Regions from separate parts of the Homo sapiens genome. Here region 1 is linked to region 2. The links come from fine-mapping of genetic effects on gene expression. A gene starts in region 2. The other region holds a variant in brackets. All regions are shown on one strand. Distances are between the middles of the regions. Region 1 overlaps CAPN3 (calpain 3). Region 2 holds the start of GANC (glucosidase alpha, neutral C).

Region 1 (8,928 bases), 130 kb after region 2:
TTCGAGAGGGGGATGGCAGGACTCAGTAGAGGAGAAGGACCGCACCCAGGCAGCCTGGGCCCCTCGGCTCCTGTACTTATATACTGCTGGGTACTTCTTAGCCCAGCATGTAATTACTGGTTCGTTCAGTCATTCGTTTAGCAAATGTTTCTTGGGCACCTACTACATAGGAGGCACAGGTCAAGGCACTGGGGATATTCTGTGAACCCATAGCCTCCCTTGATACACTGTGATTAGGGGCTGATCCTCATGTCCTGACTGCCTCCTGCAGACATTCTCATGCCTTCCTTCACCTATGCACGCTACACCTATCCTTACTTCCTCAGTGCTGACTTCTGCCAGGCCCTAGGCTACCCACCTGGGGATGTAGAAATGTAGAAATGAACACAGACACGTGGGCCCTGTGCCTGTGGGTTTAAGGTCCGGGGAAGGACAGGCAAGCACACACTAATAATTGAGATGAGTGCCACAGTAAGGATCACAAAGAGGGGGCCTCTGCACCTAGTTTGGGTGGGAGGGGAGGCGTAGAGAAAGGTTACCTGGAGGGAGTGACATTGGAACTGTGCTCTGTGCTCTGGGAAGGCCCTCAGTGACTCCTCAGTTGTCTACTTCACTGGCCCAAGTCACCTGCAGGGACGCTTGCTGTGTTCTCCAGCCTCAGAGCTTGGTGTGCAGCCCTGCCCTGCTTACCATGATGCTGCCATCACAGGGGCTGGAGACAAGTGGACCCAACGCTGTTCACTCAAGGAGATTCCCTTTGCTGCATCCCTCCTCCTGGTCTCAGGAATCTCCATGTCCCCTGCAGTGTTCTCTGACTGACTCCAAGCGCTTCCTCCACCCCTTACCTTTCCAGGGAGCACCCAGTTTAGTTGAATTCTCCTCTGTGAGCCTGAAACACACATGCACTTTATTGCCACCATAGTGAGGAGAGAGAGTGTGAAAACTGCCCAGCCTTTAGAAGCACAATGCTTGATTATTTCCCAGCACAGGAAAGGAGATGTTTACAGACTTGGCCTTTTTCCTTAGTAAATCAGAGTTTCTTATTATATGACAGACACTATGCTAACAGCTTTGCATGCATTATTGCATCTGCCCATCCCAGCCCTGTGAACAGGTGACATAATCATTTTCCTTTTGCAATTGAGGAAGCAGAGTCTGACAGAGGTTAAGTGACCTGCCCAAGGTTGCATAGCTAGCCCTATTATTAAACGGAACTCCCAGTTTGTCTATGTCCAGAACCCATTTTTTTTTTTTTTTTTTTGAGACGGAGTCTCACTCTGCCACCCAGGCTGGAGTGCAATGGCGCGATCTTGGCTCACTGCAACCTCCGCCTCCCGGGTTCAAGTGATTCTTCTGCCTTAGCCTCCTGAGTAGCTGAGACTATAGGTGCCCGCCACCACGCCCAGCTAATTTTTGTATTTTTATTAGGACGGGGTTTCACCATATTGGCCAGGCTGGTCTCGAAATCCTGACCTTGTGATCCGCCCACCTCGGCCTCCCAAAGTGCTGGGATTACAGGTGTGAGCCATTGCGAGCAGCCCAGAACTCAATTCTTAACCTTTAAAGTATGATGAAAAGAAGGATCAAGCCCTCACCAGCCCATTTAAGGAGTTTAGGCTCAGTCTTGAGGATGTGAGAAGTCATTGCTATTGGGTTTCACACTGAGGTTAACAGGTGAAGTCAGCATTTTGGTAGTTCACAGCAGCTGCAACTCTTTGTATTTCTCTGATACCTCCTGTCCCAACCTACATCAGGCCTTCCCTTCTTCCTGCTTCCTTAATTCCTCCATTTTCCCACCAGATGGAAGGACTGGAGCTTTGTGGACAAAGATGAGAAGGCCCGTCTGCAGCACCAGGTCACTGAGGATGGAGAGTTCTGGTGAGTCCAGAACCCAGGAAGACCCAGAAGGGTAAGGGTGGGGAAGAGAGGGGAAATCTCAGACCTCAGTCCCCAGCTAAGGTTATCAGATTCCAGCCCTTGGGAGATCTGGGCTGTGTTCTCCTCCAGCCCAAGGCCCAGCAAGGATGAGGTTCTGAGAGGAGCCTTCCAGGCCACAGGGACAACTGAGCCCAGGACCAGGCCAACATGACATGGCTCTTGCCTCCTGTGTGCCCCTCCGCCACACACTCTATTCCAGCCACAGGCACCCTGGCCTTAGCACAATTCTTTTCTGAGCCTAGGAAGCTCCACTTACCCTGATCTTCCAACGTCAACCTCACCCTCTCTCAGGTTGTTTCTATTCAGGCTTCAAGTCTCAGCTTAAGGAGAATTTTCAAGTCTCAGCTTAAGGAGAGCCCCCTAAGTTCCCCGAGGACTGGGATTAATTTATGATGCTCATCACCCTTAAAATTGTTTGCTTAAGCCGGGCGCGGTGGCTCACGCCTGTAATCCCAGCACTTTGGGAGGCCGAGGTGAACGGATCACGAGGTCAGGAGATCGAGAACATCTTGGCTAACACGGTGAAACCCTGTCTGTACTAAAAATACACAAAAAAAGTAGCCGGGCGTGGCAGCGTGCGCCTGTAGTCCTAGCTGCTGGGGAGGCTGAGGCAGGAGAATCACTTGAACCTGGGAGGCAGAGGTTACAGTGAGCCCAGATTGCGCCACTGCACTCCAGCCTGGGCGACAAGAGAGACTCTGTCTTGGAAAAAAAAAAAAAAATGTTGTCTTAGTATAATGTCAAGGGAAAGGTTTTTTGTGTTTTTATTACTTTATTTTTTATTTAAAAACTATAATAGAGACGGGCCTCGCTATATTTCTCGGGCTGGTCTCAAACTCCTGGGCTCAAGCGGTCCTCCCACCTTGGCCTCCCAAAATGCTGGCATGTGGGCCTGGTCAACATATGGGACCCCAACTCTACAAAAAATTTTAAAATTAGCCAGATGTGGTGGCGTGTGCCTGTAGTCCCAGCTACTTGGGAGGCTGAAGCAGGGGGTCACTTGAGCCCAGGAGGTTGAGGCTGCAGTGAACTATGATTGTACCACTGCAGTCCATCCTGGGCAACAGAGCAAGACACTGTCTTAAAAAAAAAGTGCTGGGATTACAGATGTAAGCCACCACACCTGGCCTTCTATTTTTTATGGATATATCATAGCTATATATATTTTTGGGGTACATATGTACCCATATTTTGGGGGTACATATGTACCCATATTTTGGGGGTACATATGATATTTTGATACACATATACAATGTGTAATGATCAAATTAGGGTAATTGAGATACCATCATCTCAAATATGTATCTTTTCTTTGTGTTGGGAACATTACAATTCTTTTCCTCTAGTTATTTTGAAAGATATATAGGCTGGGCGTGGTGGCTTATGCCTGTAATCCCAGCACCTTGGGAGGCTGAGGCGGGCAGATCACTTGAGGTCAGAAGTTCAAGACTAGCCTGGTCAACATGGTGAAACCCCATCTCTACAAAAATACAAAAATTAGCCAGGTGTGGTGGTGTGCACCTGTAATCCCAGCTGCTCAGCTGGCTGAGGCAGGAGAATCCCTTGACCTCAGGAGGTGGAGGTTGCAGTGAGCCAAGATCATGCCACTGCACTCTAGCCTGGGCAACAGAGCGAGACTCTGTCTCAAAAAATACACACACACACACACACACACACACACACACACACACACACACATATATATACACACATATATATACACACACATATACACACACACACGTCTGTATATATATGTGTGTGTGTATATATACACACACACACTATACTATAAATTCTTGTTTAGCTATGTTTGTCTTACTGTGCTATTGAGCATTAGAGCTTTTTTTTTTTTTTTTTTTTTTGAGACAGAGTCTCACTTTGTCGCCCAGGCTGGCATACAATGGCGCAATATCGGCTCACTGCAACCTCCGCCTCCTGGGTTCAAGTGATTCTCCTGCCTCAGCCTCCCAAGTAACTAGGATTACAAGTGCCCGCCATAATGCTCAGCTAATTTTTGTATTTTCAGTAGAGATGGGGTTTCACCATGTTGGCCAAGCTGGTCTCAAACTCCTAGCCTCAGGTGATCCACCTGCCTCAGCCTCCCAAAGTGCTGGGATTACAGGCATGAGCCACAGCACCCTGGTGAGCACTAGAGCTTATTTCTTCTATCTAACTGTATTTTTGTATCCATTAGCCACCCTCTTTTCATCCTCCCCTCTCCTTCCCTTCCCAGCCTCTGGTAACCACTGTCTGCTCTCTACTTCCATGACATATGCTTTGTTTTAGCTCTCACATATGAGTGAGAGCATGCGACATTTATCTTTCTGGCCCTGGCACATTTTTGAATCATTGTTAGAAAAGATGATGGTTTGGAGTAGATACATCAGAAGTGACAGCGTTTGCCCTAAAAAGGAAAGACAGGCTCCTCTGGGACCCTGACCAAGTTCCTGTGAACTATTTTATTATTGTGCTGTGTTAGTCCTGGGGTCTTCCGTTCCCAGCCCTCCTCACCTGCTCCCATATGG[C/G]TCTCTCTCTTCTTCCAACCTCTCAGGATGTCCTATGAGGATTTCATCTACCATTTCACAAAGTTGGAGATCTGCAACCTCACGGCCGATGCTCTGCAGTCTGACAAGCTTCAGACCTGGACAGTGTCTGTGAACGAGGGCCGCTGGGTACGGGGTTGCTCTGCCGGAGGCTGCCGCAACTTCCCAGGTGGGAGATGCTCTTGATGGGGGGAGGGTCTAAGCCGAAAAAGTTCCAGGCAGAAGAAGCCTAACTAGTGCTTATTAAGTCTCTCTGTTCCAGACGTCCACTATCTTATTAAACCTTCCCTGTTTTACTGAGAAGGAAACCACCATGCTGAGAAGTTTGCAATAGGGAGCTGGTAGCAACTTTGAAGCAGGAAACTGTGGGAACAATGCAGATGCTGCTTGACTTACGATGAGGTTATGTCCAGATAAGCCCATCCATCTTTGAAAATACCCTAAGTGAAAAGTGCATTCAATATGCCTAACCCACCAAACATCATAGCTTAGCCTGGCCTACCTTAAACATGCTCGGAACACTGACCTTAGCCTAAAGTTGGGCAAAATCATCTAACTCAAAGCCTATTTTACAAGAAAGTGTTGAATATCTCATGTAACTTACTTAATACTGTACTAAAAGTGAAAAACAGAATGGTTGTACGGGTACTCGAAATCCAGTTTCTACTGAATGTGCATCTCTTTCACATTGTAAAGTTAAAAAATTGTAGCCGAACCATCCTAAGTCAGGGACTGTGAGTACTGTGTCAGTAACAGTAAGGGCACTATTGGAGAACCAAGTTAGCAGCTGCTGCAATAGTTCAAGTCAGAGATGATGAAAACCTAGACCAAGTCAGTAGCAGCAGAGATGGAGGGGAGACAGCAGATTTAGGGAGAGCATATTGGGTGATGTAGGGAAGGAAGAAGAATGATGTCAAGATTCCCAGTTGGGGACCTGACAACATTGCAACATAAGACACACAAGAAGATCGGGTGGGTGGCTCATGCCTATAATCCCAGCACTTTGGGAGGCAGAGCCAGGAGGATCACTTGAGCCCAGGAGTTCAAGACCAGCACAGGCAACATAGTGACACCTCATCGTTACAAAAAATAAAAAAAAAAATGAGGTGGGAGGATTGCTTGAGCTCGGGAGGTTGAGGCTACAATAAACTGTGATCATGCCACTGCACTCCTGCCTGGGTGACAGAGTGAGACCCTGCCTCAAAAAAAAAAGACACACAAGAGAAAAATATCAGCGTGTTGTTTGTTTTTGGTGGAGTTAATTGTGGGGTTCTAGGGAAAGGAATTTAGCTTGGGACATGGAAAGTTTGAGGTTCCTGTAGAGTGTCCCAGTGAAGATTTGTAATAGAGCATCGGATGCGCATATTAGATGGCACTTGGTGATATGATAAGAACTCAAAAAATATTTGAGGAATAAAGGAAAGAAGAGGCCAGACGTGGTGGCTTATGCCTGTAATCCCAGCACTTTGGGAGGCTGAGGCAGGCGGATCACTTGTGGTCAGGAGTTCGAGACCAGCTTGGCTAACATGGTGAAAACCCATCTCTACTAAAGATACAAAAATTAACCGGGGATGATGGTGGGTGCCTGTAATCCCAGCTACTTGGGAGGCTCAGTCAGAAGAATCGCTTGAACCCAGGAGGCGGAGGCTGCAGTGAGCCGAGATCGCGCCACTGCACTCTAGCCTGGGCAACAGAGCCAGACTCCGTCTCAAAAAAAAAAAAGTGAGAGAGATTGAGGCTGGGATATATGGCTCAGGCATCATGCGCGTGTAGGGGGCAGTTAAAAAGCAGAAGTAAGAAAGATTGCCTAGGGAGGCAGGAAGGGTGAGGTGAGAGGAGAAGAGGCCCAGGACCAGATTCTAGTCACCAACAGCGTTTAAGGGGCAGGTAAGGAAAACAAAACCATCAGCAAAGACTGAGAATGAAAGCCCAGAGAGGAAGGAAAAGCCACACATACAATCAGTACAGCTCCATCTGAATAAAGGTAGCGCCCCCCCCCCCCCCAAATCATTAGAGAAATGCCTGAATCGTGTTTTCTGTTGATATTTCCTAAGCACCTAGATGTAGGGAATAGAAATAAATGGCTCCCTCTGTCTCATCCCCTTCCTGCCCTCTGAGAGGCAGCTGTGAATGCGTGCTTCCTTTCTGGGGGTGCAGATACTTTCTGGACCAACCCTCAGTACCGTCTGAAGCTCCTGGAGGAGGACGATGACCCTGATGACTCGGAGGTGATTTGCAGCTTCCTGGTGGCCCTGATGCAGAAGAACCGGCGGAAGGACCGGAAGCTAGGGGCCAGTCTCTTCACCATTGGCTTCGCCATCTACGAGGTGTGCAGTCCTGATTGGCTCCAGCCCAGGAAACATACTTTCCCAGGGAGGACGCTTCCAGGGGCTTCTAGAGGGGCCCTCTGGCTTCCTCAATACCCAGTGACCCACAGAGCTCCTGGTATCAGGACCACTTGTGTTTGTAACAAGCAAAAAATACCAGGGGGGGCATTAGAGAGGCAGTGGAGCGGGCCTGGCAGAACAGGTGCCTGGGGGTCAGGCTTCCGCATGCGGGCTGCAGTTGCTGGCATTGCCTTCCGCAGGCTCCTCATCCTCATTCACATCTGAAGCATCTTCCTTTCTGTTTCTTCTCAAGGTTCCCAAAGAGGTATAGCAGCAGCAGCGGCCAGCAGTTGTGTGCAGCACTACCCAGGGGGCCCCGAGTCTGTCTGTGGCTCGTCGAGAAGCTTCCTGGTGGGGTTTGTGGGCAGGACTGTGATAGGAGAGGGCCTTGCCTGTGTTATTTCCACTGCAGAGCAGGTGCCTCAGGGCATTGCATGACCCATGACTACCACCCCCAGGATGTGCACTTTCTCCCTCGCACCAGACACTGCACGTCACACACATGCCTTTGCACACTCACCCTCCTCCACGCTTACAGCCACACACACAGTCACACAGACGCGTTCTGAGGGTGGCTGCCCGCTTGGGATGGAGGAATCACTTCCCTCAGAACCCAGCCAAGTCCTCTAGGCCTCCTTGGGGGTCCTTCCAGCCTGAGGGGCTTCGGAGCTGAGGAGCAGCTGTTCTGGTAAGTGTCCCTGAGTGTGGGGATGACACATTTGCCATTCACTCTGAATCACAACAGAAAAGGAAGAGGAAGTGAGGTAGGGAGGCTATTTAAGCCTTGGGAGTCGGAAGTAGGGAGGTTGAAACTGTGACATGGGTGACCAGGGAGTTGGGAAGGGACCCTTGGAGGTGGCTGTGGCAGGACAGGATGTTCCTCCCGAGGGGCTCATGTGCCCTGGGCTCTCCCCATCTCTCAGATGCACGGGAACAAGCAGCACCTGCAGAAGGACTTCTTCCTGTACAACGCCTCCAAGGCCAGGAGCAAAACCTACATCAACATGCGGGAGGTGTCCCAGCGCTTCCGCCTGCCTCCCAGCGAGTACGTCATCGTGCCCTCCACCTACGAGCCCCACCAGGAGGGGGAATTCATCCTCCGGGTCTTCTCTGAAAAGAGGAACCTCTCTGAGTGAGTGCTGGCCCAGCTTTCCCACGTGTTTCTAAAAGCTCACATGGCCCACTCCAGAGGTTGAAGGCATGAGGCAGCTAGACACGTCTCCTCCAGGGTCCTTCTGCTGCTCCTGAGCCACTGGCCACATTACCCCCATTCATTCATTCATCCATTCTGTGATATTTATTGAGCACCTACTATGTTCCAGGCACTGTCCTAGGCACTAAGGATAGAGTAGTGAAGTAAACAGAAAGAAATCCCTGCCTTCATGGAGCTTAATATTCTAACATGAGACAATAATGGATAGGAAAAACATATGTAGCATGTTAGATTTGGAGAGGTGATATGGAGCAAAAATAAAGTAGGGAAGAGGGATAGGAGGTGTTGGGGATGCTTGAAATTTTAGGTTAGCATGGCCAGGAAAGCCACATCCTGTCCCTGGCCACCACAGATGAGCTCATAGCCCCTGCCACTCTGATCTCTGTCCTTGGAAGATGCACCAGGTCCATGGGTAGGTGGCTGGGTCATGCCTTTGGGGGGCTCTGAGCAATACTAACAAGAACCTGCGTGCCTGGGCTTGGCTGTCGGGGATGGTGCTGACATGGGGCTGGTTCCTGGGGTTGGGGTGTTCCAGGGGTTCTCTAGAGGCTGGTTCTGGCTTGGCTGCCAGGAAGCCGTGCACCAGAGCAAACCGTCCACGGGCCTCCTGCTTGCTTCTGGTGACACTGAGACCCCACATGTCTGTATTCCTCACAGGGAAGTTGAAAATACCATCTCCGTGGATCGGCCAGTGGTGAGTGGTTTAGATCTTCTGTGCGAAAAGTCCAGAGGGTCCCCTTCCCTGACCATGCAGGGGACAGATGGTGCAGGGGAGAATGGGCACTGGCAGAGGGAATGGGAGTCTGGGCTGTGCTGAGCAGTCCCTCCTTGGCACTGCAAATCC
Region 2 (14,927 bases):
CCAATTAATTCATCTGCTCATCAATTATCCCTTTTTTTTTTTTTTTTTTGAGACCAAGTTTCACTCTTGTCGCCCAGGCTGGAGTGCACTGACACTATCTCAGCCTCCTGGGTTCAAGTGATTCTCCCACTTCAGCCTCCCGAGTAGCTGGGATTACAGGTACCCGCCACCATGCCCGGCTAATTTTTTTGTAGAGACAGGGTTTCACCATGTTGGCCAGGCTGGTCTTGAACTCCTGACCTCAGGTGATCCGCCCACCTCGGCCTCCCAAAGTGCTGGGATTACAGGCCTGAGCCACCGCATCTGGCCTCAATTACCAATGACTAAATTTGTCTTCTTAATAATAAACTTTACTTCTAGTAATTTGACAGTTCAAGGCAAGTTGCTAAATATTCCAAAATAATTTTTAAATATAGTAAGGACAAGTATAGATGATAATTACTATAACTATTTTCAACACATATAAAATTTTTCTATCAAAAAACTGAGATTACTATTTCTAAGACAACAAAATTTGATATCAGAATCTCCACTTACATGATTGCATATGTGTAAGCACGAAAAATGTATGATTATTCACATCTCCCTCTTTCTACAAAATTAAGGTGTGAAATTGAACTCTAAGACAATGATGATACCCTTCTGATTTCAGATCTATAGAAGTAAATTTTAAAAACCCTGATTTTTCTGGGAACATATTAATTAGATGAGGAGACCAAAGAATTAAAAATGTGACGTTTTAAATGTCCATCAACAGATGAATGGAAAAACAAAATGTGGTACATACATACAATAGAACATCACTTAGCCTTAAAAAGGAATGAAATTCTGATAACGCTATAACATGGATGAACCTTAAAAACATTATGCTAAGTGGAAGAAGTCAGACAAAAAAGAACAAAAGTTGTATGATTCTATTTATATGAGGTATCTAGAATAGTCAAATTCATGGAAAGTAGAAGAGTGGTTACCATGGTCTTGGGGTTGGAAGGTGGGGAATTTTTGTTTAATAGGTATGATGTTTCAGTTTGGGATGATAAAAGTACTAGAGATGGGGCTCAGCCCGGTGGCTCACACCTGTAATCCCAGCATTTTGGGAGGCCAAGGTGGGTGGATCACTTCAGGTCAAGAGTTCAAGACCAGCCTGGCTAACATGGTGAAATCCTGTCTCTACAGAAAATACAAAAAAAATTAGCCAGGCGTAATGGTGTGAATCTGTAGCCCTAGCCACTTGGGAGGCTGAGGTGAAAGAATTGCTTAGATCCGGGTGATGGAGACTGCAGTGAGCCGAGATTGTGCCACTGCACTCCAGCCTGGCGGACAGAGCAAGAATCTGCCTTGGGGAAAAAAAAAGTACTGGAGATGGGTCGATGGCTGCACAGCAATGTGAATATATTTAATGCCACTGTATTATACACTTAGAAATGGTTAAAATGGTAAATTTTATGTAGTGTATATTTTACCACAATAAAAAAATGGGGGTTTGCTTTTTACACACAAAGCAAAGTACAACCTCTCTTTGATGAGTATGTATAAGTGGCTGACTATGTACCTATCAGAACATGCTTCCACTTACTTCTGCCAAAAGAAATACTTGAGAAGTCGGAAGTGGATACAGCCAAAAATATATACATTCCAATTTTTGCCTATTCTATTTATCTCCAATCACTTTCAAAGATTACCTGTGTTTTAAAGAGTTCACTGCAGTTCTGGAACAATTTTGATGATGTTTGATATTTCCCAGACAAGCCTCTTTTTTCCTTAAGTTTTTCCAAATACAACTCTACTTCTTCTGCCTGGAAAAAGAGATAATACAGAGTAGTTAACTCACCTTCCAAAAAATAAGATACTAAGAGCACAGCACAACAAACAGTTCACCTGCAGTACAGATACAATTTTGAGTTTGCTATTTTAAAAATGAACAGCATCAGATAAAGGCTCTATATAAAAATATCTAAGAATCAAACACTATCAGACTCAAGGACTATTAGACTCTAGTCTTTGGCTCACAAGGCATAGTTCTACTAACAATTCTGAGTAGACTGGGAAACTGCCAGAGTGTAGAGGGTTTTGTCACATTAAAATATACTTAAAAGATTTACTTGACCAAATTAACAACATCAACAAAAAAATATTCATGCTCATAAGCTAAGATAGAGCAGAAAATTGTTGCAAGCACAGAACTAGGATAATCTTCTTAAAAATGCAAATTGAGAGATAGAAACAGAATGGAAAAGGTCTGAAAAATTCAACTCAGAACTATATATATGTGTGTGTATATATATATATATATTTTTTTTTTAACTTTTATTTTAGGTTCCGGTATACATACGCAACTTTGTTATATAGGTAAACTGAACTCACAGGGAACTGTTTTACAGATTATTTCATCACCCAGGTACTGCCTAGTACTCAAGAGTTATTTTTTCTGATCCTCTCCCTCCTCCCACCCTCCACCCTCAAGTAGGCCCAGTGTCTGCCGTTCCCCTCTTTGTGATCATGTGTTCTCATCATTCAGCTCCCACTTATAAGTGAAAACGTGGTATTTCGCTTTCTGTTCCTGTGTTAGTTTGCTAAGGTTAATGGCCTCCAGCTCCTTCTGTGTTCTTGCAAAGGAAATGATCTCATTCTTTTTTATGGTTGCATATGTATCACATTCTTTTTTATGGCCGCATATGTACCACATTTATCCAGTTTACCATTGATGGGCATTTAGGTTGATTCCATGTCTTTGCTATTGTAAACAGTGCTGCAGTGAACATATATGTGCATATGTCTTTACGGTAGAATGATTTATATTACTTTGGATATATACCCAGTAATGGGATTGCTGGGTCAAATGGTAATTCTGTTTTTAGCTCTTTGAGGAATTGCCACAGTGCTTTCCACAGTGGTTGAACTAATTTACACTCCCACTAACAATGTATAAGCATTCCCTTTTCTCCACAACCTTGCCAGCATCTATTATCCTTTGACTTTCTCATAATAGCCATTCTGATGTGAGATGGTATCTCATTGTGGTTTTGATTTGCATTTCTCTAATAATCAACGATACTGAGCTTTTTTTTTTTCATATGCTTGTTGGCTGTATATCTTCTTTTGAAAAGTGTCTGTTCATGTCCTTTACCCACTTTTCTATGGGGTTGTTTTTTGCATATAAATTTGTTTAAGTTCCTTATAGAGGCTGGATATTAGACCTTTGTTGGATGCATAGTTTGCAAATATTTTCTCCCATTCTGTAGGCTGTCTACTCTATTGATAGTTTCTTTTGCTGTGCAGAAGCTCTTAAACTTAATTAGATCCCATTTGTCAATTTTTGCTTTTGTTGCAATTGCTTTTGGCGCAATTGCTTTTGGCATCTTCATCATGAAATCTTTGCCACTTCCCATGTCCAGAATGGTATTGCCTAGGTTGTCTTCCAGGGTTTTTATAGTTTTGGGTTTTACATTTAAGTCTTTAATCTATCTTGAGTTGATTTTTGAATATGGTGTGAGGAAGGGGTCCAGTTTCAATCTGCATATGGCCAGCACGCTACCGCAACACTATCTACTAAATAGGGAGTCCTTTCCCCATTGCTTGTTTTTTGTCAGCTTTGTTAAATATCAGATGGTTGTAGGTGTGCGGCCTTATTTCTGGGCTGTCTTCTCTGTTTCATTGGTCTTTGTGTCTGTTTTGGTTACTGTAGCCCTGTAGTACAGTTTGAAGTCAGGTAATGTGATGCTTCCAGCTTTATTCTTTGAGCAATATATTTTCAACGCTCAAGTATTCTAGATTATGGCAATTCTCAAAAGTGTGGCCGTTGAACCATAGACAAAACTATTTTCATGGCTGGGCACAATGGCTCACGCCTGTAATCCCAGCACTTTGGGAGACTGAGGCAGGTGGATCACCTGAGGTCAGGAGTTTGAGACCAGCCTGGCCAACATGGCAAAACCCCATCTTTACTAAAAATACAAAAATTAGCCGGGTGTGGTGGCAGACACCTGTAATCCCAGCTACTTGGGAGGCTGAGGCTGGACAATCACTTGAACCCAGGAGGCAGAGGTTGTGGTGAGCTGAGATCGCGCCACTGCACTCCAGCCTGGGTGACAGAGTGAGACTCCATCTCAAAAAAAAAAAAACTATTTTCATAATAATAATAGTATGCTATTTGACTTGTAACGATATTACAAAAGCAATAGTGGGTAAAACTGTTGCCCCTTATCAGGAACTAAGGCAGTGGCATTTAATTCTACTAGCAGTCATATTCTTCATAGTCACAAACTGGCAGTTTTTAAAAATGCCACTTTTATGTAAGAATATCCTAGATAAAGCAGTAAAAATTATTAATGTTATTAAATCTGGACCTTTTGAGTACCTGACTTTTTAAATAATCTAGGTGACAAAATGGAAAGCATGCAAAATACAATAAATTATTGTCTTGAGATAAAGCACTCTGCAATTGCTTTGACTTGTGAGTTAAACTAATCATTTTTTCCACGAAACACCATATTTACTTGAAAGAATGACTGAAAAACTACCATTACTCAGACTTGGTTATTTGAGAGTTATTTCTCTGGAAATGGGCAACAGAGGCTGTCCCCTCAAGGAAGACAACTGACAGTATTCACTGCCAAAATAAAATTTGAGATTTCAAGCAAAAACTGGAATTTTGAAGAACTTGTATCTGCTACACTGAATTTAACGGCTTCCAAAACTTAAGAACCTACTGATGAGATGAAGAGGGCAGGGTATAGTTATAAACAATGTAATTTTTAGCTAAGTGTGAAATGAGTTAATATTTATAAAAATGTATATAATTCAGTCAACTGCTATTTTCTAAATGACCAATAAATGATGCTACAAGATCACACACAGGTAAAAGATACATTCATATCAGTGGATTTCTTATCAGAGTACAAAAAAAGTTCATTAATATTTCAGATTCCACATTGCAACTAACCTTTAAAAACTTCCACTTGTTGAGTTTTGGTATAGAATCAAAAAAGAATATCCTCAGTTATCTGAAAAGGCCATTAAAATACCATTCCTTTTCCCAACTATATATCTGTATGAGGTCATTATTTTCTACATGTACTTAAGCCAAATTATTGCAACAGACTGAGTGAAGGAGGGAATATAAGAATACAGTGATCTTCTGTTATGCCAGATAGTAAACAAATTTACAAAAATACAAAACAATCCTACTCTTCTGTGTGGTTTTCTGGGAAAAACAGTTATTTATATTAACATGCAATAAGTTTATTATTGCTACTTTAAAATAAACTAATAAATATTTTTATATTTTCTCAGTTGTAATTTCTAATAGCATAACCCACATGCTCAAAGGCTTTCTGGAGTCCACAATAATTTTTACAAATATAAGAGTTCTGAAACCAAAAAGTTTGAGAATTGGTGGTCTGCAAATTGGGAAGCATGCATTCTAGTTTCAGCTCTCCTCCTCCATAGCTACATGATACTCTTTCCTCTATGAAATTAAGAGACTGGAACCAGATAATCACTAAGGTCCAAAAAAACTCTGTAATTTTATGTTCCTTACCTTGAAGTTATAGATTTCATTGTAACAATCAGCGCTTTTCAGATACCAGGTTATATTCAAAGACAGGTCACAAGGTTCTCCATCAACTACAAAAGAAGAAATCTTTGTTAACAAAAGATAATTCCCCAACAAAGCATTTTTCCTAAGCTGTTAACCTATATCCTATTCATTTCGTACCCTAAACTGAGATACTCAAAGACCATCCTTTCTCCAAACATAAGGTATTGAAATAATACATGCAAAAAGAGCTGGATATTAAGATAAAAGTATTGTTGTTCATAGAAAAATAGCAGGTAAGCAGTTTTTAACCTCTGGAAACTGTGGATCTATTTTTATGCCATAAAGTCCTAACTTCTGGATCTCTATTGAGAAAAACCTGGGAGTGATAAAGCACTCTAAATTCAAGCCAGTCTTCTATTATTTAAGTATTTATTGAGCAGGCTAGGTGCGGTAGCTCACACCTATAACCCCAGAAGTTTGGGAGGCCAAGGCAGGGGGATCGCTTGAGCCCAGGAGCTCAAGACCACCCTAGGCAACATAGTGAGAACTCATCTCTACAAAAAATGATTAAAAAGCTAGGCGTGGTGGTACATGCTTGTAGTCCCAGCTACTCAGGCAAGGGAGGCAGGAGGATCACTTGAGCCCAGGAGGTCAAGTCTGCAGTGAGCCATGATGGTACCACTGCACTCCAGCCTGGGCGACAGAGCGAGACCCTGTCTCAAAAAACATAAATAAATAAATAAATAAATAAATAGCACAAGTATTACAAAGGTATAATGGCACACTGTTAGGCTAAAGAGGGAAACGAGTGGAAACAAATTATTAAGACCCTTCAAAAGGCTAGTTGAAGAGACAAGCAATAATAAAATTAGGAATGCATGTCACAAGGCAATATTAACAACTGTTAAATGGTGTTAAATGATGATATACATAATAGTTCCACTGAGAGCAAAATTGCTATCTCAGACCTTGAAAGATATCAAGATAGAACAGAAAGAGCAATGAACGAAAAGCAAACATGGCTGTGGAAGGTAGAAATAGCAAAAGCAAAGATAAGAGTATCAGATTTTTTTTTTCAAAGCCTACCTTAAAAGAGGCCTCAAGGAAGCTCATGTTATCATGGAAGCTTCATAAAGCTCATTAAACACAGTTTGGAACACAGTATTCTAATGGATCAAGACATTATTCTGAAGACTTGGGAGGGTAAATCTGACTATATGACTGATTAGCTGGAGGAAGTCAGTATTCGCTTTTATCTTTGATTCTAGCTATGAAAGGAAAAATATACTAAAGACTCCCTACTTTATATAAATGTAATAATAAACATGACAAAAATAAACATGACTGCATTTAGGAATCTACTTTTCATTCATAACAAAAGAAGCAACCTAATTATAAGCTTCCTTTTTTTTTCTTTTAAACTGTTTTCTCAAACTAATTTTTAGATGACCAACACATTTTCAAAGGACTCTATTAGAATGTTCAAAAATTTGACCTGTTGGATAGAATTTATGGAAATGATAAAAAGCAATTGGGCTATGAACTATTCAAAATAATCCATACAGGGACAGGATTAACTAATAAAAAGCCAGTAAGAACACATCCCCCAAACAGGAGACTTGTAAGGAAATTTGGCAGCAAAAATACTGCTGTTTATGTTACAAGACAATATTTAGAACTTTAAATGAAAGGCTTTAAGAGACAATAAGGTCGGGCGCGGTGGCTCACGCCTGTAATCCCAGCACTTTGGGAGGCCGAGGCGGGTGGATCATGAGGTCAGGAGATCGAGACCATCCTGGCTAACAAGGTGAAACCCCGTCTCTACTAAAAATACAAAAAATTAGCCGGGCGCGGTGGCGGGCGCCTGTAGTCCCAGCTACTCGGGAGGCTGAGGCAGGAGAATGGCGTGAACCTGGGAAGCGGAGCTTGCAGTGAGCCGAGATTGCGCCACTGCAATCCGCAGTCCGGCCTGGGCGACAGAGCGAGACTCCGTCTCAAAAAAAAAAAAAAAAAAAAAAATGGTCCCAGCTATTCCATGGAAAGCTATATACCATCCCCCAAAAAGTACAAAATCAAAGACAACTGGTAAATATGAGAAAGCACAGAAATAACAAAGAAAAAGATAATGTTAAAGTGTCTCAGGCCGGGCACGGTGGCTCACACCTGTAATCCCAGAACTGTGGGAGGCCAAGGCAGGCAGATAACTTGAGGTCGGGAGTTCGAGACCAGCCTGGCCAATATGGTGAAACCCCCACCTCTGCTAAAAATACAAAAATTAGCCGGCGTGGTGGCACGCGCCTATAGTCCCAGCTACTCGGGAGGCTGAGGCAGAAGAATCGCTTGAACCCAGGAAGCAGAGGTTACAGTGAGCCGAGATCGTGCCACTGCATTCCAGCCTGGGCGTCACAGCAAAACTCCGTCTCAAAAAACAACAACAAAAAATAAAGTGCCTCAAATCCTCCAAAAACAATGAAATATAAACACTTCAAAATACGCAGTTAGGGCTGGGCATAGAGACTCATGCCTGTAATCCCAGCTACTCGGGAGGCTGAGGCAGGAGAATCGCTTGAACCTGGGAGGTGGAGGTTGCAGTAAGCCAAGATCGTACCACTGCACTCCAGTCTGGGTGACAGAGTGAGACACCATCTTAAAAAAAATGCAGTTGGTTTAACTTGGCAAAACACCACTAGATCAAACTACACGAGAAAAAAAGACTGGACCTAATAAAAGAATAAAACAGCAAACAGGCTGTCAAGCTATTCCAAAAGACAAGGGTTACTAGGTTACCCAGTAAACCAATCTCACAAGGCCAGTGTCAGAGTAGATTTGATCTAAATCAAATATAAGTCACTGGTCAGGAGACTGATTACATATTCATGGATACAGTATATATTCTTCAGAGAAATTCTACCTGCTGTTTTCACTCCCACTAGAATGTAAGCTCGATGAGGGAAGAACATTTTTCTATTACTTCCCCACAGTCTATGCAATAAGTAATAATTACTCACTAAACAATTGAAAAGAATAAAATTATCCAACTATGACTTAAAATTTTGCACTTCCGTGAAGACAGTATGCATAGAATCACACATCTATCATCAGGATTTTTATCCCTCATCTAGAAATAAAGCTGCCCACGATCAATCGTTCTCTAAATTAAAGCCGGTTTCAGAACTAAAAGGAAGCTTTTACTGAACACACAATGGGATACTTTAGATTCAGATACAGTCATTTTTCCACTAGACAAACTAGTTTTGTTCTACATAATCCCTATTTCTTGATAATATCTGAGCTTCCTCTTCCAAAGCAGTAAAATACTCCTTTTGTAAATAAAGGATCTACTAAATATATTCCTTCACAGCCAACGGCCTGACAAACCTAGGTCATGTTTGCAGTAAACATTTAACAAGCACACAAGAGTAAAACCTCTTTAATCTACACAGAACAGATTAAAACCACCATGCAGGGAATCAACCCCAACATAATCACAGTCATTCACTACATAACATTTCAGTAAATGAAAGACTACATATACAACGGGGGTCCCATAAAATTGTAATATCGTATTTGTACTCTACTTTCCTATGTTTAGATATACAAAAACTTACCATTGTGTTACAACCACCTATAGCATTCAGTACAGTAACATGTTATACAGGTTTATAGCCTAGGAGCAATAGGCTGTACCATACAAACTAGGCGTGTAGTGCCATCCAGTTTTAAGTATACTCTATGATGTTTGCATAATGACAAAATCACCTAAGGATGCTTTTCTCAGAAAGTATCAACTGTAAATGTAATTCGACTGAGATGTGACTGAATATTCAATGTAGTATATACAGCATATATATTAATATATACATTATATATACTAATATATAATGTCTACATAGTGTATATATGCAATGTAAACACCAGAAAAACAAGAGAAGAAAATAAAGTTCACACGAGTACTTTGAAGATGATTCAGTAAAAGGACCTTAGTAATACTAAAAATATTTATACCTAGATAATGCCAGACTATTAGATTTCAGAACTTATAAAATAGGTAATTTAAAACATTACCTATAAATTTTTAAAATTCAAATTAAAACTTCATGAAATTCAAAAACTCACACTTCAGGAAGATAGTGGTATTTCTGAAGAGGATCTTTCCAAAACTAAAATAATTTTTCCCCTGCAAACATAAAGGAAAGATAATTAGCCTCAGATGGCTTCAATTACCAAAGCATCATATAACTATCTAAGACTGCTAGAAATTCCAACTTAACTTAAATCTTTATGGGACGTACCCCTTAATCAGTTCATTCCCTTTACTCACCAATCACTGCTCAGAATAACCAATCATTTTTTCTAATGAACTATTCTGTGTGCAAATAACCAGAGTTTTATTTTCAAATCTAAAAAGACTTAACTATTAACCATTTTAGTAACAAGTAAAAACCTAACTGAACACCTGAAAATCTTCACCACTGAACAAAAGGTATAACGTTTACCATAATAAAAGCCCAAATAAGATTTGGACATTACAGTCAGTGAGCAGAGCAGAATGAAACAAAAAGGCCAACGTAGGTTTAATGGGGCTAATGCTTTTCAGCATTTCCTCCCTGCATCTGGTTTTTGTCTGCTCACAGGACTATACCTGTTACTGAAATAAGGTTTAAAATGGGTAAGGGGCAGAAAGGGTCAACCCATGTAGTTAATTATCCAAATGAAAGACTAGCCTTACCACATTAAATTTTAAGTACTATTTCTTCAATTTTAACCATTCCCATGTTAAAACACATTTCTTAAATCTCTATGCTTTCTAGTCACACAGTAAAGCTTAGAATAGCCATTCCAAAGTTGAAGCGAAGTCGAACCATCTCGTAAGCAGAATTACCCAGGGACCAAGAAGTGCAGAGGAAGAAAAAGAAAGAAAGAAATGAAGACTCCTATTTACATATCTTTCTTATCCAACCCGGGGACACTGGATTCTGTGAAACATCTGAAAGATAAACAACTCTCCGTTTGTACATCAAGTTTACATCTCAAGTCAGGCACTGAAAGTTCTGTTTTTCTGATGAGAAGCCGCTCCACCACTCCTTTCTGTTGCTGAAGTGGCCCTTACATTCCCGCTAGCCTAATCACAGAAGTGCGCGGCTTTCCACTCCAGGGAGGTGGGTCCCAGTTGGCTAGCCACACAGACCATCCCAGCAACCCCACCCCTTTTGAAGAGACTTTTGCGGAACCTTCATGGACCCCTTGGGCCGCCGTAGCCCCACCCCTTGCTCCTCTAGGTTCAGACGTTAGTGAAGTGAATACTCACCGACGGTATCGGAATGTGCCATTTGGACCGGTCGGCAGCAGCTACGGTTGCCGGTCCCGCACTGAAAAACGACAGTGGTGACGGGTGAGCTCCCAGAAGCAGAAGAATGACAGGCAACACCTGAAGCCACGCAGCCGCCGCCATCTTCACAGCCGTGGAGTGCCTACCGAAAGCATTTCACCCTCTTCCGGTTCGTCCCGCCTTCTTCCGGCTCTGCTCTAAGGGCGGGATTATCCGGGTCCTGGAAACGTCGCGGAGCTTGTTTGCTGTGCGGCGTAGCGGCCCCTCTCTCAGACAGTCGTCTGTGCGCCGTGAGACTTTGGACCTACTGCGCAGGCGTCATCCTGTTGGAACCTGGTCAGCTGGGTTAGAGAGATCGCTACATGCCAGCCTGGCCTGAGTCTTTTCTGTCTCCCAGCCGTTAAAGGTTTTAGGACCAGGCAGGCACCCCGTGCAGGATTTGGCTCTCTACTTCCGCTCGCCCCAGCCCTTCATCCCTTCTAAGTCAATGTCAGACTTTGGGGCCAGAAAGTCTGGAAAAGCCCTAAGCCTGGCTGCCCAAGTGGCGTCTAGTAGTGAGTTCTCCGGTTTGGGTGGTATTTAAGCAAAGGCTGGAATTCGGCGGTGGTGGAGTACACGCGATTCCTAGACTGGGTAGTGTAACAACCTTCAAAGGCCCCTTCTAGCCCTGAAGAGTACGATGCTGCAGTACAATCTGGCTGGAGACCTAGCCTCCAGCAAAGACCCGGCCGGCACTTCCCACCCTTAACCGAAAACGGAGACAGAGAGGGTCAGTTTTCAAAATCTGTGGCGTGACCCCGCCACTGAGATAGATCTGCAGATGCTTCGTCCCAGTCAGGGAGGCCGTCTCGGCATTTCCAGGTTCTTAACGCTCTTGATTTTTACCCTCTAGGACTCATTGCGTACACGCCCTCACCGCCGCCCAGTTTCGGTTCCTAACAAAAGCACGTTCCTCATCAGCCACCCATAATCAAGACAAATTTGCCAAATAAATCATTGTAGAAACGCTAGTTTGGGCCTGAAAAATTCCAGGAGCAAGAGTCAAGATTTGTCACTCCATGAGAATCTGGAGGGGACTCCCTTCCCAGAAACTTGACGATGAAGTACTGGTTGTAATTTTAGAAAGACACCCAATCGGCTTTTTTAAAAGATCGCCCAGGGCCCTTGTCCTGAGAGCTGGGAGCTGGTCGGAGTGACAGAGAAGCCATGGAAGCAGCAGTGAAAGAGGAAATAAGGTAAAGGCCAAGTGCTTCTGTAGCGAGTGACCCCAGGGTCCCTAGAAACAGGGAATAGTGTTTTAATTGCATTTCTTATTTGCGTATTTGGTATTTGCTGACCTTTATCTTTTCTCTCAATTCGCGGGAAGTTAGTTGATATTAATAGCCTCTCATAAAATACTTTCAGGATGGTTAAATAGGCCGGGTGCAGTGGCTCACGCAGGTAATCCCACAGCACTTTGGGAGGCTAAGGTGGGAGGATCGCTTGAGTTCAGGAGTTCGAGACCCCCTCCCCGCCCCCTCGGAGTCCCAGCTACTTGGGAGACCACTGGGAGGATGGATTTGGAGGCTGCAGTGGAGCTGTGATCTTGCCACTGCTTGGGCAACAAAGTGAGACCCTGTCTCCAAAAAAAAAGGATGGTTAAATAACATTAACAGTGGAAAAGTTGCAATCAGAACTCTTAACACGTGAATTTCAGGCATGTTGCTTTCCAAATTCATCTATAATCACCCCTTCCTATATCATCCCAGAGTTAATTCTTCGAAGCTGTAAAGAGGAAACAAAAGATTCTCCAATCTTTGTACACTTGATTAAAATAAACTGGGCCGGTTCGCTCATGCCTGTAATCCCAGCACTTTGGGAGGCCTATAGGTGGGCAGATTGCTTGAACCCAGGAGTTCAGACCAGCCTGGGCAACATGCTGAATCCCTGTCTCTACAAAAATTTTAAAGTTAGCCAGACGTGGTGATGTGGGCCTGTAGTCCCAGCTACTCAGGAGGCTGAGGCAGGAAGATAGCCTGAGCCCAGGAGGCGGCAGTTGCAGCAAGCCAAGATCGTGCCACTTCACTCCAACGTAGGAGGCAGAGCGAGATCCTGTCTCAAAAAAAATTTTTTTAATAAATTAAAATAAACGGACAAAGACTGAGTTCAGTGAAGGACAAACAGTTTTTTAGTATGGCCAAGTATATCTGCCTGGGCTTGTTTTCATAATATTTCGACGTTTGTGTTCAGTCATAGCTTTCTACATAATCATGGACATGCTGACTACAGATGCATTCGGCCACACTAGTGCATGAAAGCCGGTGTAATTTTTTTTTCTCCTTATAATCTGTAGTTGTTTTAATCAGATGGAGGCTAGTTTAAATACATATACTCAAACTTCAATATACATATATCTCATTCATGTTTTATCCCAGAAACAGCTCTTCTGGAAACTTGGTTTTAAAAAACATGGCCCCTAGTTTGTCACCTCATCTTAAAAAGCAAGAAATTCCCCTTCTACGTCTGTTCTGTTCTTATTCTAGCACCTTGCACCTCTATTAAAGCATTTGTCAGCTTGTATTGTGATTGCTGGTAAAACCCTAACTGATAGCTTGAACACAGTTCATATCTTCCTCAGAGCCCAGCTCTCAGGAAGAATATTCTGAAAATATTTTCTTGAATAAATCGGTGGGTGGGTTATGGTTCTTAGTTTGTCTGGTTGGTTGGTTTTGGTTTGTTCGTTTTGGGATGCTGTTTTGGTTTTCCTCCTTCAGATTTTACTTTTGTGGTCATAGCCTTCAGTCATTATTTCAAAAGAATATGTCCTCATAAGTGACAGTGATCTTTTCCCATTACTTTTGGAGTAATCCCAGAACCTGATGTTTTGTTGTTTACCTCAGAGGGTTTACAAAAGGCTATTGTTCTGCAACATAATGTGCTATTATGTTATACTGTGGCCGTGACACAATTTTGCATTGCAGAATAGACTCCAAAGGTTTATTTTGCATGTTCATACTGTCGTTAGAGAAGGTACAAAAGTTGGATTCACAAGCCCTGTGTGAAATAAATTTCTCAAAATGTCTTTTTATTTAGTCTTGAAGATGAAGCTGTAGATAAAAACATTTTCAGAGACTGTAACAAGATCGCATTTTACAGGTAAGGAAAATAAATATAGTAGCTAGATCAAAACATCTCTGACAGTATTTCAAAATTGATGCTTATTAAATTTTTGGAACTGATAGACTTTCCAAGGAAAGGATAATTTAATAATTAAGGAAATCATCAGACAGGAGACTCACTTTTAACTTTATACATTTACTCCTGAAGTATTTAAATTTTTCAATAAACAGCTATTTTATTTTAAAAGCCAAAATATTTTTAAACTAGTTTTAAATTTTGACGCTTTGAATAGATAACACTTTTACATGGTTCAAAAATAATATAAAGAGCTATACATTGAAAAATGTTGCTTCCACTCCTGTCCCCTTCTACCCATTCCTCATCTTGTCCCGAATAACCGAATTTCTTCATTTCTTATTTATCCTTCCAGTATTTTTTTGTAAATACATGTATTTTTATATTATTGCTTTTCTCTTTTTTTAATCACCCCTTTTTATACCAAATAGGTTTTTTTTCCTGCTTTATAGTTTGTTCTGAGGAGAAATTCATATGAGTGCATGGAGATTGTTTCTCCTTTTTACAGCTGCATAATATTCCATGGGGTAGATATACTATTAATATAATTTATTCAGTCTGTCTCTTATTGCTAGACCCTTGGGTTGTTTTTAATCTTTTGCTAAAATAGCACTACCACAATGAAGAGCTATACATAGGTCATTTTCTACACATGCAGGTGTATTTATAGGATACCTTTCTAGGAGTGAGATTACTGGGTCAAAGAGTAAATGCATTTGAAATGTGTTAACTATTACCAGATTTCCCTCCATAGGAATTATACCATTTGTACTCCTATCAACATTATATAAGATTGCCTGGCTGGGCGAGGTGGCTCACACCTGTAATCCCAGCACTTCGGGAGGCCAAGGCAGGCGGATCACCTGAGGTTGGGAGTTTGAGACC

What was found.
Region 1: its variant is fine-mapped to the expression of GANC in whole blood (TOPMed, PIP 0.96).

The regions. Positions count from the first base shown.
Region 1 is chr15:42,395,000-42,403,927 of GRCh38, forward strand. CAPN3 (calpain 3) reads left to right here. Exons shown (of 24, transcript NM_000070.3): 9 at 1,801-1,878; 10 at 4,493-4,653; 11 at 6,642-6,811; 12 at 7,125-7,136; 13 at 7,795-8,003; 14 at 8,742-8,778. Among named protein-coding and RNA genes, the nearest start is that of CAPN3, 40 kb to the left of the region's middle. RefSeq lists enhancers at 6,185-6,264, 6,635-6,684. The variant C/G (reference allele first, on the strand shown) is at 4,467.
Region 2 is chr15:42,262,408-42,277,334 of GRCh38, forward strand. GANC (glucosidase alpha, neutral C) reads left to right here and starts at 10,794. Exons shown (of 24, transcript NM_198141.3): 1 at 10,794-12,103; 2 at 13,941-14,003. The coding sequence starts at 12,075. TMEM87A (transmembrane protein 87A) reads right to left here and starts at 11,026. Exons shown (of 20, transcript NM_015497.5): 1 at 10,848-11,026; 2 at 9,656-9,716; 3 at 5,540-5,625; 4 at 1,683-1,796. The coding sequence starts at 10,991. RefSeq lists enhancers at 10,376-10,625, 10,786-11,015, 10,988-12,187.